2 separate regions of the Homo sapiens genome follow, and region 1 is linked to region 2. The links come from fine-mapping of genetic effects on gene expression. A gene starts in region 2. The other region holds a variant in brackets. All regions are shown on one strand. Distances are between the middles of the regions.

Evidence for each region. PIP is the estimated chance that this variant, and not a neighbour inherited with it, causes the effect.
Region 1: its variant is fine-mapped to the expression of GRAMD4 in whole blood (TOPMed, PIP above 0.99).

The regions. Positions count from the first base shown.
Region 1 is chr22:46,581,111-46,589,425 of GRCh38, reverse strand. It overlaps a transcript of GRAMD4 not described here. Among named protein-coding and RNA genes, the nearest start is that of GRAMD4, 35 kb to the left of the region's middle. RefSeq lists silencers at 1,251-1,300, 1,651-1,700 and enhancers at 2,191-3,178, 4,167-5,154, 5,155-6,144, 6,681-6,780, 7,499-7,578. The variant G/A (reference allele first, on the strand shown) is at 3,867.
Region 2 is chr22:46,616,682-46,624,996 of GRCh38, reverse strand. GRAMD4 (GRAM domain containing 4) reads right to left here and starts at 4,611. Exons shown (of 19, transcript NM_015124.5): 1 at 4,432-4,611. RefSeq lists enhancers at 2,872-3,383, 5,812-6,579.

The DNA of each region.
Region 1 (8,315 bases), 36 kb after region 2:
GCCACGTGAGGCACAGCCCTCACACCCACGGCTCCCCCATATCAGAGCTGCCCCCACACCCAGGACTCCCCCACATATCAGAGCTGCCCCCACACCCAGGGCTCCCCCACATATCAGAGCTGCCCCCACACCCACGGCTCCCCCATATCAGAGCCGCCCCCAAACCCAGGACTCCCCCCAAGAGCCAGGGCTGCCCTCTTTAACAAGGCTCCAGGGCTTTCGGGAAGGCAGCAGCGACTGGAGGGACAAGGACACTGAGCCAGGGTCTCCCAGCTCTGAAAAGGTCCTCCCTGGAGCACCAGCAGGCTGGGGAGTGTCGCCCATCCAGGTCCCCCCGCCCCCTGCCGTCCCTGCTTCTCCCATCAGTACTGACGAAGCACCTGCTGCGTACCCAGCCCTCTGCCCAGCGCCACAGTTACGAGCTGTGGTTGCACTGCCACGGGCCAGCACAGGACATCTCAAATGTTTAAGAGAACTCTGCTGTCACCAACCTTACTGTGGGAGGGGGTGGGGAGACGCTGGCAGAGGCTGGGTCACCAGCCCCAGGCCCCACAGCTATGACAGGACCTGAGAAGAAAGGCTTCGGCTCCAGCCCAGCCCAGCCTGGGCCACATCCAGGCTCTGCCCAGCCCGGACCGACGCCAGTGTCACATGCCCTCCTGAGACCTGTGTCAGGGAAGCCTAAGGACCCCGGGGATGGAGAGGGCGGTGCTGGGGCTCCTGGATCAGGCCGGGGAAGGAGGACGGACGAAAGGGTGGGCACCCCGCAGCTCCAGGAGCACTGGCCACCCCTGCCCCCCAGCCAGGAACATCTTCAGATCGCTCATTCTCCAAAGGCAGCTGATGGCTAAGACTGCGAGGGACAGGGTGGGGCCTTGTAAAAGCTTAGAACGTGGCTGGCCAGAGGCCACAGCTCCCCTCTTGCCCTCTGTAGTGGTTTGACCCACTCCGCAGATACCAATATGAACAGCACTCGCCCGGGGAGGGTGCTCCAACAAGCCAGCCGGGTCTGCCCCACATCCACAGAGCTCAGCAGGCCTGCCACCTCCCTGCCCTTGCGTGGTGCTGCCTGGAGGGATGGAAGACGGACAGCCAGACAGGGACGGAGGTGTGCTGACCTCAGCTCTGCCCCTCCTGACCTACTGGCTCCTCATCCATCGGGTTGTGGGGGACGCTGGGCAGTCACTGGGGTTACCTGGCTTCTCCCATGCTCCTAGGTTCTCAAAGCAGATGGGGTGGCTGGGGGTGACCCCCCAGGGCCTGCCTATCCTGAGTCACAGCTCTAGATGTCCGGTTTAGAGAGAGACTCTGGGACAGAGCCCCCGAAGGCGGCTCCATGGGGCTCCACCAGGGCTGGGGCTGTCCCAGAGTCTCTCTCTAAACCCGACATCTAGAGCCAAGTAGACACCACCCACTCCCTCCCCGCCTGTGCCCCTCCTGACCAGGCCCTGGCCCCCTGGACCCTCAGGCCTTTTGCCAACCTGTGATGTGAGTGCGTCTGCCCAGACGGGGAGGATCAGGAGCCCTGTACCATCCTCCCGCGGCCCCACCCCGACGCCCGGGCTTCTGGCGCACACGCCTGTTTCACTTCCTCTCCACCAAACATCTGCCACCTCCACTGTTAGGCAGGTCAGGCTCCAGGGGCCAGCAACGACCACCAGTCAGTTCCACCTGTTTCAACCCTACCTCGGGCCAGTGCCTCTGGGTCCCTCCCTCCTGAGCTGGGGTTGGCTGAGTGTGCCTGCCTAGGCTTCTCCCACAGGACAGGACAGGACAGGACAGGACGGAGCCTTGCCCACTGACCCCCATCCAGCCCACTGGCCCCCCGCCCCGGCCTGGGCTGCCTGCCAGGTATGCTGCTGGTGGAGGCCCTCCCCCTCAAGCCTTTGTCAGACCCTGACTATCCCCCTAGTTGGAAGAGAAGGGCTACAGAAAGCAAGCAGAAGACACAAACCTGGGCACTGAAGCCGGAACAGGACCCCAAACGGCCTCCGCCTCCCAGAGCTGATGGCCCAGTGTCACTCCGGACGGCTGGGCTTTTGGAACAGACTTCCCCTTCCCACCCCCACACACTTAAACCTGACAGTTTCACTTCTTGGGTGGAGAATGTGTGAAATGATTCACACACCTTGCTGGGGTCCAGCAGTGGCTGGGGACACAATGTCACCTTCTACTCCGGAGCCCCAGATCACTGGCTCATCACAGCCCAGCGGGCACACACGCTCCACAGATCACAGGGGCCTCCACTCTCACAGGGTCCACTCCTGTTGTCAGCTGAGCATTCCCCCAGGGCAGGGGATAATCTACTTCATCAGGGTTCTGTGGCAAACAAGAGCCACTGGGCGCAGAGTGGGCTGAGAAAGCATGCGAGGAAGTAGGCGACCATCAGCACGGGCTTTGTCCAGCATCACAGGGTAGTTACGGTCCGGTTCTTCCCGGGTAAGAGGGTGGGTTCTGGGACACAGACGGGGTGTGGGTGTTGCTTCAGACTTTTAAACGCCAAACTCCCCACCCAGGGGCCAAGGTCTACACACACCTTTCTACCTCTGCCCATCCAGGTCCCAAGTGCCCTCAGAGCTGCAGGGCCTCAGCTCCCTCCTCATCAGCTGCAGGGCAGGAAGACAGAGGACCCTGCAGGCTGTCACTGCTCAGGCCAGGCTCACCCCAGGGCCGCTTTCCCCAGCAGACAGGTAGGGGTTCCCCCCAACTCATGTCCCAGCAGGGACAGCAGCCAGTCGCCCTGAGAAGCTGAGACCCCACCAGCGATTCCGCCACACCAGAGCTCTGGGTGCAGTAGGATACCTGGCTCCTTCGTCTGCCCCCTGAAGGCCCTCGTCTCTGTGTCATGGGGCTAGGCCCTCCCATGACCCCCACGTTTCCCCAACCCTATGGAGTGTGTCTAAGGAAGCAGGTGGAATTGGCCTGGCTCCCCCAGTCTGGGGCCTAGAGCAGAGCCCGGGGAGCCAGGGAGCCCTGGGCTGGGGAGGGGAGGGCAGACAGAGGAGGGGACAGAGCCCCTCCGAGCCAGCATCACCCGGCAAATGCCTCCGACCATCGCACCGGACTGAGCCAGCCCACCAATCTCAACCTGGAAAGCAGGGAGGCGCCAGTGGGGCCCAGTGAGGATGGGGGTGGGGCACGTGGGGCGGTGGGGAGGAGCCAGGGCAAGGAAGGAGACACGGTCAGCAGGAAGGCAGGAGGCTGGCCCCAGGTAAGGGCATAGGCAGGTGAGTGGGCCACCCCCTAAGCTGCATTCCCAAGAATGCTGGCATCCCCAGCGAGGGCAGCCCTGGCTCCCCGGGCTGTGCTCTAGGTCCCAGACTGGGGGAGCCAGGCCAATTCCACCTGCTTCCTTAGACACACTCCATAGGGTTGGGGAAACGTGGGGGTCATGGGAGGGCCTAGCCCCATAGCACAGAGACAAGGGCCTTCGGGGGCAGACAAAGGAGCCAGGTATCCCACTGCACCCAAGACGTGGCTGAACCTCAGTCCTAGCCCCAGAGGAGCCGCAGGCACATGCTGGTTGGGTCTCCAGGAGCCTTGCACAGAGGCTGACCTTTAACAAGCTGACCTGAGAGGCCGGTCTCAAGCCATCCCCACTCCTGTGTCCTATAAACTCCTGTGCCCCTCCCTCATCGCTCCAGGGAGCCCTCCTTGTCGCTCCCTCCCTGGCAGGGTCAGGCCCTTCCCCATCCCATAGACCAGGCTCTCTTTACCTTTCCACCTCCCACAAGCTCCCTTCCACCATGTGTGCCCTGAAGGCAGAAGCATCATTCAGGTGCCCCGGACAGGTGATAAGAGGCCAGCACCCCTCATGGGACCGCGAACACAAGGGTGAAAGTCTTGTATTCCAGGCAAGGGCCTTG[G/A]GGTGCTGTGACCGGAGGCTTCCTGGGTCTAGGGCCGAAGTTAACCCAACATCAAGAAAACAAGACAGGCAGCCGGGCGCGGTGGCTCACGCCTATAATCCCAGCACTTTGGGAGGTGGAGGCAGGCGGATCACCTGAGGTCAGGAGTTTGAGACCAGCCTGACCAACATGGAGAAACTCCGACTCTACTAAAAATACAAAATTAGCTGGGCGTTGTGGTGCGTGCCTGTAGTTCCAGCTACTCGGGAGGCTGAGGCAGGAGAATCACTTGAACCTGGGAGGTGGAGGTTGCAATGAGCCACGATCACGCCATTGCACTCCAGCCTGGGCAACAAGAGCAAAACTCCATCTAAAAAAAAAAAAAAAGAAAGAAAGAAAAAAGACAGGCTCCACTCAGATCCCCAAAATGCTGCCTGGAAAACACCGCCGACAAACCAGCAGACGAGGAGTGACCACCTGGTTCTCTCTCTTCCCAAAACTTCTGCAAGGGCCTGACGCATTCCTGAATGAAAGATGCTTAACAGAAAGCCCAGCAGATGCGGCTCTGTAGATCTTTTCAAAGGCCGTCCCCTGCCAGGGTGGCAAGTTCAGAGGCAGAGAGGGGACAGACCTGGCCAGGATGGAGTCGGAGATTTGTCTGAGCTCTAAAGCGTCCCGCCGGCAGCCTTTCTCCTCCTTCCCCGAGGAGGCCGGACTCTGGGATGCGTTCTAAGTCAGCCCCACTTTCACGTCTCAAAGCAACGCCAAGCCCGTGCCCGTCCCTGCGGGGCCGGGCTGACTAAGCACAGCAGGGAAGTCCCTGGTTCTCCTGCAGCCTCCCTCCCTTCTTCCCTCTAAGTCGTGGAATCATGTTGGGGAGGTGGCGGCCCCTCCCCAGCCCCAGCCAGCCATGCTGCGGCAGCATACCGGGAGCCCGGGCTCGAAGCCAAGGGATCGGGAACTGCTTCCCGGGGGGTCCCACTAACAACTCCAGTCCCACTACGCAGACACACCGGTACTAACAATTAAGTAGATGTGTGGCAAGCGGTGGGAGTCTGGCTTCCTGCTGCTTGAATAGACACGAATTGATCTGCAAGAAAGGAGACGAGAAAGATCCATGCAGGAAACGGATCAGAGTTCATCAGCGGCGCGAACTCACACTTTGCTCAATACAGGTACAGGAGGCTACACGCGGACACAGGCAGAGACACGTACATATGTGCGCGTCAGCTCACACGTGCATTTCCTTGCTGTCAGCTAAGAGGGCCCAGAAGCAATGACACCCCGGTAGTGATGAGCGTACCCGCCACCTGGATCTTGGTTTCCGATTCTGCCCTCCAACAAAAGGAACCCGGGCTCCCTGCAGAAGGGGCTGACTCTAGGCCTGGGCAGGGAATGGACAAGCTGAGCCTGGAGCATCTCACAGGGCCAGAAAGTGAGGAAGGACTCACACCACCCACCGTGAAGGGGTGCATCCAGGGAACCCGACGGCCAGCACTGGAACGAGTGAGCAAACAAAATAATGGCATTCCGCATTGACCTAGAGGATTAAATGAGTATCCACGAACCCACATGGATAAGTAAGCGGCTGCATAAACTGATAAATGGGGAGAAGAGACAGACCCCCCTGAAGAAGAAGGCCACATCAGTGACACAGCCACTCTGCCCTCAAGGAGGCAGGCGTGACTCCCCAGCCCTTAAGTGTGGCCGCGTGTAGTGACCTCCTCCCAAAGGCAACAGTACTGGAAGGAGGAAACACAAGAACTGCTGTGAAGACCCCTGACAAACACATCTCAGGTGGGTGGCCAAGTCAGCACCAGTAGCCGCGGGCCACATCGAAGGTATGCGCCTGGCGTGACGTGGTTAGAGGGCACCATGCCCCTGTGGTCTTCCTCCCGCTAAGCCAGGGCCCCAGTCGCACCATGAGAAATACATCCAAATTCCAACAGAGGAATTCCAATTGTTCAAACAGACAAATTCCAATGGATGGAGATCCCACAATACACCTACTATTTCTTAAGACTGTCAGAGTTATCAAAACTAAGAAAAGTCTGAGAAGCTGTCATAGCAAAGAGGAGCTTAGAGAGACATGACAGCTAGATGTCATCTGGGACCCTAGATGCAGTCTTGGAACAGAAAAAGGACATTAGGTAAAACCTAATGAATCTGAACAAACTATGTACTTTGGCTAATGATAATGTATCAATATTAGTCCATGGATTGTAACAAACCTATCATACTAATGTAAGATGTTAATCACCAGACAAACTGCAACTGTTGGTAGGGATAATTGGGAAACTCTGTATTATCTCTGCAATTTCTCTATAAATCTAAAACAGTTTTTTAAAAATAGAGTTGGCTGGGTGTGGTGGCTCACACCTGTAATCCCAGCACTTTGAGAGACCGAAGCGAATGGATCACCTAAGGTCAGGAATTCGAGACCAGCCTGACCAACATGGTGAAACTCCATCTCTACTAAAAATACAAAATTAGCCAGGCATGGTGGTGCATGTCTGTCACCCCAGCTACTTGGGAGGCTGAGGTAGGAGAATCGCTTGAACCCGGGAGGCGGAGGTTGTGGTGAGCTGAGATCGCACCATTGCACTCCAGCCTGGGCAACAAGAGCGAAACTCCATCTCAAAAGACAAAAGAGAGAGAAAGGTGGTCACCACAGGCAGGGAGGAAGGGTCCAGGGAGTGCCTAAAGTGTCTAGAAGGCCCAGGTTCCTGTTTGGGTTTCGATTGTGGTGATGGCTGCACAACTTGGTGAATGTACTAGAAGTCCGTGAACTGTGCACTTTCAATGAGTGTGTTGTATGATGTGTGAATTACACCTCAATAAAGACGCTGACAAACACACCTCAGCCAGGTGGCCAAGGTCAACACCAAGAGTGAGGAACAAACAAATTCACTCCCAGCCTGGCTCCTGGCCCTACCCAACTCCACAGCCCAGCTCAGACCCGAGCCAGGGTCCCAGGATACCAGGCATAATGAGGTGCCGCTCCAGGTCGCTGGACATGAGCAGAGACCCCTAACTTCAGGAGCCCACCTTCTAGAAGGGAAGCGTGGTAAACAGTAGACAAACAAGAACCTCAGGAAGAGGAGAGCAGTGACAGCAGAGGCACAGCTGGGGCACTCATGGGAGGCCTCCCTGGAGGGGGGACGTGGAGCAGAGAGGTCCCAGGAACGGCCGGCAGGGGAACCCACCAAGAGAGGCTGAGCCGTTTCCTGGAGCCTCCTAACCGCCCGCTGCCCAGCATTCAGCTTCTCCCACTGCAGCTTCTCGGGAGTTTGGTGGCACAGAGTCCCAAGCAGAGTCTCTTGTCCCTCCTGTTCCCCAGGGACAAGTAACAATTCACCAAGCACAAAGCTTCACGGTTTCCCAGCAGCCCCACGCTCTGCCTCCTTGGACCTCACTTCACAGAGGGCAGTGACTCGGCCACTGCAAAGTGCATCCCAGAAGCCCTCACTCCTCGACCACCCATGGCCTCCACACCCAGCCCCACCCAGCCCCAGCCAAGGCCCCAGCACTGCTCCTCAGTAGACCTGCTTCCTCTAGGGAAGTGGCAGCCAGGCCTCTCCACCCACCTGGGCCTCCCTGTGGGAGGTGGTGCAGACGCGGCCATCTCAGGCCAGAGCCAGCTCTCAAGCTCTGGCTTCTATACCCTAGGCCAAGGCCTTCGTTTACAGGTGACCAAACTGAGGCCCAGAGAGGTTAGGTGTCTTGCCCAAGAACACACAGCAGCAAGATCAAGCACGCTCTCCGCCCAACCCCCGTGCATATGGGGCTTAGGTTAGAAGCACAGCCCATTGGTCCAAACCCACCTCTACCACGCAGCAACCTGTGGCTCTGTGCCAGGGCTTCCTCCTGCGTGAAATGCAGCTAACAAGAGCACCTACCTCCAGTTGGTACGAAAATAAATCATGTCTCATGCTTAGAGGGCTGTCTGGCCCTGAGCAGGACATGCTGTCCGAATCTTGCTATTTACTGCACATTTGACAGCAAAAAGAGAAGTCTCATCATGACTTTGAGTTTATTGCTGATATTTCTCTCACAAAACCCCCCTTAGAGGAGGGTTATCAGGAAGGCAGAAAGGCTGCAATGTTTATGAGCATAGCCTTGGGGGCAAAGCCACCCACGTGCAAATCCCAGCTCTGCTCGGGAACGAACTGGGGACTTAGGCAAGTGGCACTGCCTCCCGGTGCCTCAGTTTCCTCATCTGTAAAATGGGGTGAAGCTGTGTGCTCTGCAGACTTGGTTGAGACAATTCGTGTGAAACACTCAGCGCAGGCCTGCTGTGCAGAATGAGTGATTTCTATTACTATTATTAATGTTTTTGATAGGCCGGTACTTCCTGCCTTTCCTGTGTAACCACAGGGGACTTTAATCACTGGGCTTAAACATAATCACAACCCTAGGTTATAACTCAAACACCAAACAATCAGAACAGTAGCCCTGTAGACGGGACTG
Region 2 (8,315 bases):
CCCAGCTACTCAGGAGGCTGAGGCAGGAGAATGGCATGAACCCAGGAGGCGGAGCTTGAAGTGAGCTGAGATCCCGCCACTGCACTCCAGCCTGGGTGACAGAGCGAGACTCTGTCTCAAAAAAAAAAAAAAAAAAAATCCCACAGGACACAGGCTCTACGGGGAGCTGTCCTGATGCCCAGCATCCCCTGGAAGCTGGGAGGACCCCAGGAGGGGGATGTGGGTGATGGGGAGGTAGCAACTGCTGCTCATAGGCTGAGGGAGCATGAGCCAGCCATTTGGAAAAGCTTCCCATATAGGAGCTACAAATTGCAGAGGGACTAAAGGTTCAGTCAATTTAAAAACACACAAACCTTAAAAGAAAAGAGAACAGCTGGGAGCAGTGGTTCACGCCTGTAATCCCAGCACTTTGGGAGGCCAAGGTAGGCGGATCACGAGGGCAGGAGTTCGAGACCATCTGGCCAACATGGTGAAACCCTGTCTCTACTAAAAATACAAAAATTAGCTGGGTGTGGTGGCGGGCACCTGTAGTCCCAGCTACTCAGGAGACGGAGGCAGAGGAATTGCTTGAACCCGGGAGGCGGAGCTTGCAGTGAGCCAAGATCACACTATTGCACTCCAGCCTGGGCAGTGAGACTCCGTCTCAGAAAAAAAAAAAAAAAAAAAAAAAAAGGAAGAGGGAACTTAGTAGCTATGAAATCCCTAGAGAGAAGAAGATGGAAGAGTCTATATTAAGGGACTGAAAAAAAAAAAGCCACTAAGTAAAAATGTCTAACAGGCCACCAGGCAAAAGTAAAAAGCTCTCATTTGTAAAAAGAAAGTAAAAAATGTCAAAATACGCTATAAAACAAGGAATACAGGTAACAAATATGATACATGAAGGATTAATATCCATGTTACAAGACAACTTGACTAGGCCAGGTGCGGTGGCTGGCACCTGTAATCCCAGCATTTTGTGAGGCCGAGGTGAGTGGATCACTTGAGGTCAGGAGTCTGAGACCAGCCTGGTCAACATGGCGAACCTCCATCTCTGCTTAAAATACAAAAATTAGCTGGGCGAGGTGATGTGCGCCTACAATCCCAGCTACTTGGAAGAGTGAGGCAGGAGAATTGCTTGAACCCGGGAGGTGGAGGTTGCAGTGAGCCGAGATCACGCCACTGCACTCCAGCCTGGGCAACAGAGCAAGACTCTGTTTAAAAAAAAAAAAAAAAGGCAGCTTGACAATGTAGTCAATGTAGCAAAAATGACAAGACCACTTCCTAATACGCGAAAACCTTCAAGCTCACTAGAAAGGAAACTAGGCCGGGCATGGTGGCTCATGCCTGTAATCTCAGCACTTTGGGAGGCCGGGGCGGGCGGATCACGAGGTCAGGACATCGAGACCATCCTGGCTAACACGGTGAAACTGCATCTCTACTAAAAATACAAAAAAGTCAGCCAGGCAAGGTGGCGGGCACCTGTAGTCCAAGCGTCCCAGCTACTCAGGAGGCTGAGGCAGGAGAATGGCATGAACCCGGGAGGCGGAGCTTGCAATGAGCCGAGACTGCACCACTGCACTGCAGCCTGGGGGGCAGCGTGAGACTCTGTGTCAAAAAAAATAAAATAAAATAAAGAAAGGAAACTAAAGCTAACCCGGGCTGCGGAATGCGGCAGAGCAAGCACACAGACGCCCCCTCAACCGGCCACCCCACAACTCAGTACCAGGACCCTAGGACCAAGCTCAAGAAGTGGAGGCCTGGTGGGGGGAAACACGTCACACACCATCCATCAAGACCAGCAGGGCAGGGGGTCCTGGAGCACCCTGGTGGACCCACACAGGACCCCGTCCTTGTAAAGGGATGAAGGCAACTAAAACCGGGACCTTCCTGTGACTGTCGTTATGGCAAACAGGTGCGTGAAGAGACTCGGGCGCTATGGGGCCAGACGTCGGGAGTATGGGCTTACGGTGGTCGTTAACAATTCTCTCTCCAAATCTCCTAAAATGCCTCCCTATTACTTCTTTTCCCACAATATTTTTTAATTACGGTAAAACACACATAATATAAATATTACCAATTTCATCAGTTTTTTTTTTTTTTTTTTTAGAGATGGAGTCTTGCTCTGTCGCCCAGGCTGGAGTGCAGTGGCGTGATCTCGGCTCACTGCAAGATCCGCCTCCTGGGTTCACGCCATTCTCCTGCCTCAGCCTCCCGAGTAGCTGGGACTACAGGCACCCGCCACCACACCAGCTAATTTTTTGTATTTTTAGTAGAGACGGAGTTTCGCCATGTTAGCCAGGATGGTCTCAATCTCCTGACCTCGTGATCCACCCGCCTCGGCCTCCCAAAGTGCTGGGATTACAGGCGTGAGCCGCCGTGCTCAGCCCAACTTCACCAGTTTTTAGCGTGCAGCTCCGTGGCATAAATTACATCTGTGATGCTGAGCGGCTGCCTCCGGACTCGTCTTGTCTAACTGAAACTCTGCTCACTGAATAGGAACTCCCATGCCCTCCCCAAGCCCCCGGTAACCACCATTTTTACTGCTTTTTAATGTTTAAAAAGGAAGGATGAACGGGCTAGGGGAAGTGTAGCAATGTAAAACCTACTTCCTTCCATTTTCAAAAACCCGGCGAGTCCTCCTGGTTGCGGCAGCTGAGAGGGAAGCGGAGGGGATGACCCGGGCGCTGGGGCCTGCAGGCCCTGTGTAGGGCACCGAGCTGGCCTCCACCCAAGGAAAGCAGGGGACACGCTTGGACACGCACAGAACTCTTGGCTGCCTGCAGGGCTCTGGGCAGAGGACAGCCCCCTTGTCTGGGAGGCTGTAATTCCGAGGCCAGGGCTGCCTTCCCAATCACCTCAGGCAAGCAAATGAGGCAATGAGAGAGGGGACAAAGGCCCTGAGTGTCCCGCCTGTCACCATCAGAATGCAATGCGTGCCCCGCCAGTGTCCAGCTACTCCTCAGTCTGCTCTCCCAGCCACCGGCTCAGCCCCAAACCCAGGGTCATCCTGCTGGATGGTTCACAGCGGCCCTTGGGGAGGGCGTCCACACATCAGGGTCCTAGACGACCCTGCTCTCAGCCCCACTGACTCCACCACCCTCCTCACCCAACTCCCTGGGTCCATCAAAAAGACAGACTTTTCAAGCTTCGGTCAGTTAAGAATCAAACTCCATGTCACGACACATGTCACCACACACTGCCAGGGATGGACCTTCCAGCCTTCACCACCAGGGATGGGCCCGGGCTACACTTCCAGCCTGCGCCTGCACCGGGGTAGGGGTGCCCTCCGCGACACAGCGCCAGGGACGGGCCCGGGCTACGCCTCCAGCCTGTGCCTGCACCGGGGTAGGGGTGCCCTCCGCGACACACTGCCAGGGATGGGCCCGGGCTACGCCTCCAGCCTGCGCCTGCACCGGGGTAGGGGTGCCCTCCGCGACACACCGCCAGGGATGGGCCCGGGCTACGCCTCCAGCCTGCGCCTGCACCGGGGTAGGGGTGCCCTCCGCGACACACCGCCAGGGATGGGCCCGGGCTACGCCTCCAGCCTGCGCCTGCACCGGGGTAGGGGTGCCCTCCACGGCCACATGGGCAGCCCCCGCACTGCACTGAAGAGTGCTCCACTGTACACCAGGGTGACTTCATCTCAGTGACATCTGCAAAGAGCCATTTCCAAGTAAGGTCGGGTCCACAGGTACGAGGTGGACATGAATTTTGGGGGAGGACACTATTACCCAGCACACGCCCAACTTACAGATGCAGGAACCAAGGCCCGTCTACACACTGAGCATAGCTCCAGGCTGCACCTCAGGCCAGACCCGGGTCTCCCGACACCGCCCACCTGCGTCTCACCTGCACCTTCCGTCCTGCGTGCTGCAGCCGCGCATCCCCAACCAGACGGCCCCTGCCCTCCCCACTTCTAGCTGCCCATCCCCACCCCCTCCACGGTCCCTGGAGGAAGCCCAGCTCCTCAGCCTGCAGCCCAGCCGCTCTCCCCAGGACCAGCCCCTCCACCTGCACCTACAGGCCCACCCCTGGCAGCCCAGGGCCCCTGCAACTCCGAGCCATGCGGCCCTCTCAGATCGGCCTCCTCCCTCTCGGATGGGCCTCCCTCCCTCTCAGATCGGCCTCCCTTCCTCTCGTCCTGTCAGGTTCTGAGGGGCTTCCTGGGAGGCTCCTCCTCTTGCCGGCCCTCCTGACCAGGCCAGGTTCTCAGGAGGCCTCCACCCTTCCTCACTGGACCCCTGGCCCCGGGCTGCGCAGGTGCTTTACCGGTGGGGTCTGGCCTGCACCCGGCCTTGGGAGGGAGCCTGCCTTTCAAGATCAAGATGGCTCCAGAAGAGCACGTGGTAGCTGGGACCACTGCCCCAGAGAGTAGCAGCTTTTCCCAAGGCTGGGGCTTCCACTCAGATGGGCCCTACCATGTCCCCCTGCCCCCTGCCCCCTGCCCCCTACCTCCGTCTGTCTCAGATACATCCAGAAACACTCTTTCACTGTGGCTCCTTCAGGTCCTGGCCCAGAACCAGGATGTGCTACGAGGACCCAGGAACCATAGCCTCCAAGCCGCCCAACACCAGCAGGCACGGAGAGGGTGGTGTCTGCTGCCCTGGAGCCTGGAGGACTCCAGTCCTGTGCACCAGAGCAGGGCAGCAGGGCTCACCACGGCTGTCCAGGTTCTCCCAGGATCCCCCAGGCTCAGGGCGGCGCCCGGCCAGGCTCCAGGCCCTCTCTGCAAGCAGGACGGAATTGGGCCAGCCAGCCCTGGAACACAAAAGCATGCTGCTCTGGAAACCGCTGAATTGCTTCTGGACACACAAAGGCAACAGTGTCTAGGGAACCCTGGACTCAGAAACCGCAAAGGACTTTATTTCCCCTTCCCCAGCCCAAGATTTAAAAAAAAAAAAGTGGTTCCTGGTCTCTGGCGCTTGCCCTGAGCCGTGTCTCCTTCACACCATCTCCCCTGCTAAAGTTCCTCTCCGAGTTCTGGGTCCCTGGATCACAGCTGACCTCCACATCAGGGCCCGGCTGCTGGCACGCCCTTCATCCCCTTATTATCTGGCGGCTCTCCTGCTGATCCTGGGATAAACAGCATCCGCTTTCCCACAGCCGCCAGCCCTCCTAAGCAATGTCCCTGGGGGACTCGCAGATGTTGAGCGACACAGACACACCTCCCCCACCCCCACTGCAGTGGGCCCCAGCCCCCACCTGGCCCTCCTCCAAGTCTCAGTCCTCTAGGGAAGGTAGCCCCTAAACCTCACTGTCAGAAAGGCCTGGATGGAGGTTAGACCAGCAGCTGGACAGCCAACCTGGGCAGCTGAAGAGGACGTGAGGATGGGGCAGCTGGCAGACTCCAGGGCTTTGCAGAGTGAACAGGAGGACCGGGGGCGGCCAGCAAAGAAGGCCTGGTTCTACCAATACCCCATCGCCAGCCAGGCACCAGGGCTCAGGCCTGTAATCCCAGCACTTTGAGAGGCTGAGGTGGGCAATGCAGTGACACAGAAAGTGAAATAAGAACATGAGCCAGCGTGGTGGTACGTGCCTACAGTCCCAGTTGCTCAGAAGGTTGAGGCAGGAGGATCGCCTGGGAACCTGGGAGTTTGAGGCTGCGGTGAACCACGATCGTACCACTGCACTCCAGCCTGGGTGAGGGCCAGACCTTGTCTCTAAGAACAAAACAAAAACATCCACCCCAATGTCCCCATGCTTACAGCCACATACTTGCACCTCCCTAACTCCTGATGCAAAGAGGCCCAAGGACCCAGCACACACACAGCTCCCTGGGCCCTCTGGGGTCCTGAGACTGCAGATCCTGCCCTTCCAGCCCGTGCCCGACCTTGGCCACTATTGTTCCAACATCAGCCTCAAGAGGTCGGCTCACAACTGATGACATGTGTGCTGCCCCAAACTCAAGGCTTGTCCAGGAGTTTCATCCCCTCCCTGGATTCAGGCCTCAGTCCTGCCAGCTGGGCACAGTCAGGCGGCCTCAAATGCTGATGTCCGTATCCGGGTGTTTGGCTGCTCTCAACCCTGCCCCCTGACCTGGCCTCCCTGCAGGCTCCAAGCCGGACAGCTCACCAGTATCTCAACTATGCCACGCCTGGCACAGACTCGGGTCTCAAGGGGCACTCTGACTGGATGGCACCGTGTCCACCAGCTGTCTGGGTGAAACCCTCAAGAGCCCTTGATAGCCCCGTTCCTCACTCCACTGCCAACCTGCAGCGCACGCCGGCCGCACGCCTCCAGACGGGGCTGCACATCTGTCCACCTCTCCCCACGACCCCAGCCTGGTCCAGGCAGCCGCGTGCCTCCCCTCTCCCCACCACCCCAGCCTGGTCCAGGCAGCCGCGTGCCTCCCGAAGCCTTCTCCACATGGCAAGCATGGTGAGGCCTTCAAAGGCAAAATCAGCCTCTGCAGCGCCCCTGCCAAAGTTCTCCAGGGGCTTCCACGCACCCGGGTCAACACGGCTGCTCCCCCGACACCCTCATCAGCTCTGGCTCATCTAGGCTTGGCTGCAGCTCTGCCGACCCCCTTTGCAACCCTCCGACCACCGCCTCTGTCCCCACTGCAGGGCCCGACACGTTTGGCTCCGGGACGTCGCTCATTTGCCCCATTCCCTAGGCGCCGCCCGCTGTCATTCCACCATCCTGTTTGGTTTGACGTGGGGTCCTTGGATTGCCCTGATGGCTTCCTTGTTTAGCGCTTGTGCCTCCAGTCCTGCTTGGTTAGAACCCGCCTGGTGCTCCCCCGGGGCAGGGGCTGTGTCTGGCTAAGTCTCCAGGGGCTCGGCTCTGCCGGTGATGCTCAGGTGGACTCGAGCTGCAGGCACCCGAGTCTCCCTCTGCAGAGCTTGGCACGTGGTGGGCAGTGACAAACACTTGTTCAGAGAGTGAGGGAGCGACACACAAAGGCAGCCCAGATGCCACGGCTGGGGGGTCCCCGCCAGCCTGAGCCCGCAGCCACCAGCTGAGCTTTCTTTCCTCTGCCAGAGGCCTCAAGAGAAAGGGACACCCATGGACTAGGGACACCCATGGACTCTGCCTTGGGCCCTGCCAAAGCACAGCGTCCCTGAATACACAAAAACTTTTAACTACAAGCCTTCAGTGATCTGGGATGTTTCTCCAGGAAGAAACCTGAATTCCTTCCCTTGGCAAAGTATCTTCAGGCTTGAGTCATACGAGGGTCAGGCTGGAACCCCATGTGGGGAGCTGAGCCTTCTGCACTGTGACAGGGAAGCCACCCAGGGGGGCCAGGGAGCGGGCCCAGGGCTAAGCACACCCTGGGGTGCTAATGCCAGCACGGTGTATGGCCCGCTCTGGGGCCACTTGCCAGCGTGGCCCAGGAGAGACAGTCAGGAAGACTGGGAGGGCCAGGAGATGCCTACGTGAGTCTCCGCTTCTTCCTCTGTGTGCTGGGATCCTGCCCAGGCCTGGGGAGGAAGGAGCTGGTTAATGTTTAAGGACCCAACACAGAGGAACCTACACGCACAAGGGAACCTACACGCACAAGGGAACCTACACACGGGGAAACCTACACGCACAGGGGAACCTACACACAGGGGAACCTACACGTATGGGGGGAACCTACACCCAGGGGAACCTACACACAGGGGAACCTGCAAGCACAGGGGAAGCTGCACACACAGGGGAACCCGCACACATGGGAGAACCTACACACGGGGGAACCTACATGCTTAGGGGAACGTACACACAGGGGAACCTACATGCACAGCAGAACCTACACACGGGGGAACCCACAAGCACAGGGGAACCTACACACTGGGGAACTTACACATGGGGGAACCCACACGCACAGGGGAACCTACACACGGAGGAACCTACACGCACAGGGGAACCTACACACGGGGGAACCTACACACACAGGGGAACCTACACATGGGGGAACCTACACGGACAGGGGAACTTACACATGGGGGAACCCACACGCACAGGGGAACCTACACACGGGGGAACCCACACGCACAGGGGAACCTACACACGGGGGAACCCACACGCACAGGGGAACCTACACACGGGGGAACCTACACGCACAGGGGAACCTACACACGGGGGAACCTACACGCACAGGGGAACCTATACGCACAGGGGAACCTACACACGGGGGAAACTACACGCACAGGGGAACCTACACACGGGGGAACCTACACACAGGGGAACGTACACACAGGGGAACGTACACACAGGGGAACCTACACACACAGGGGAACCTACACACAGGGGAACCTGCACGCACAGGGGAAGCCACACACACAGGGGAACCTGCACACACGGGGGAACCTACACGCACGGGGGAACCTACACGCACAGGGGAACCTACACGC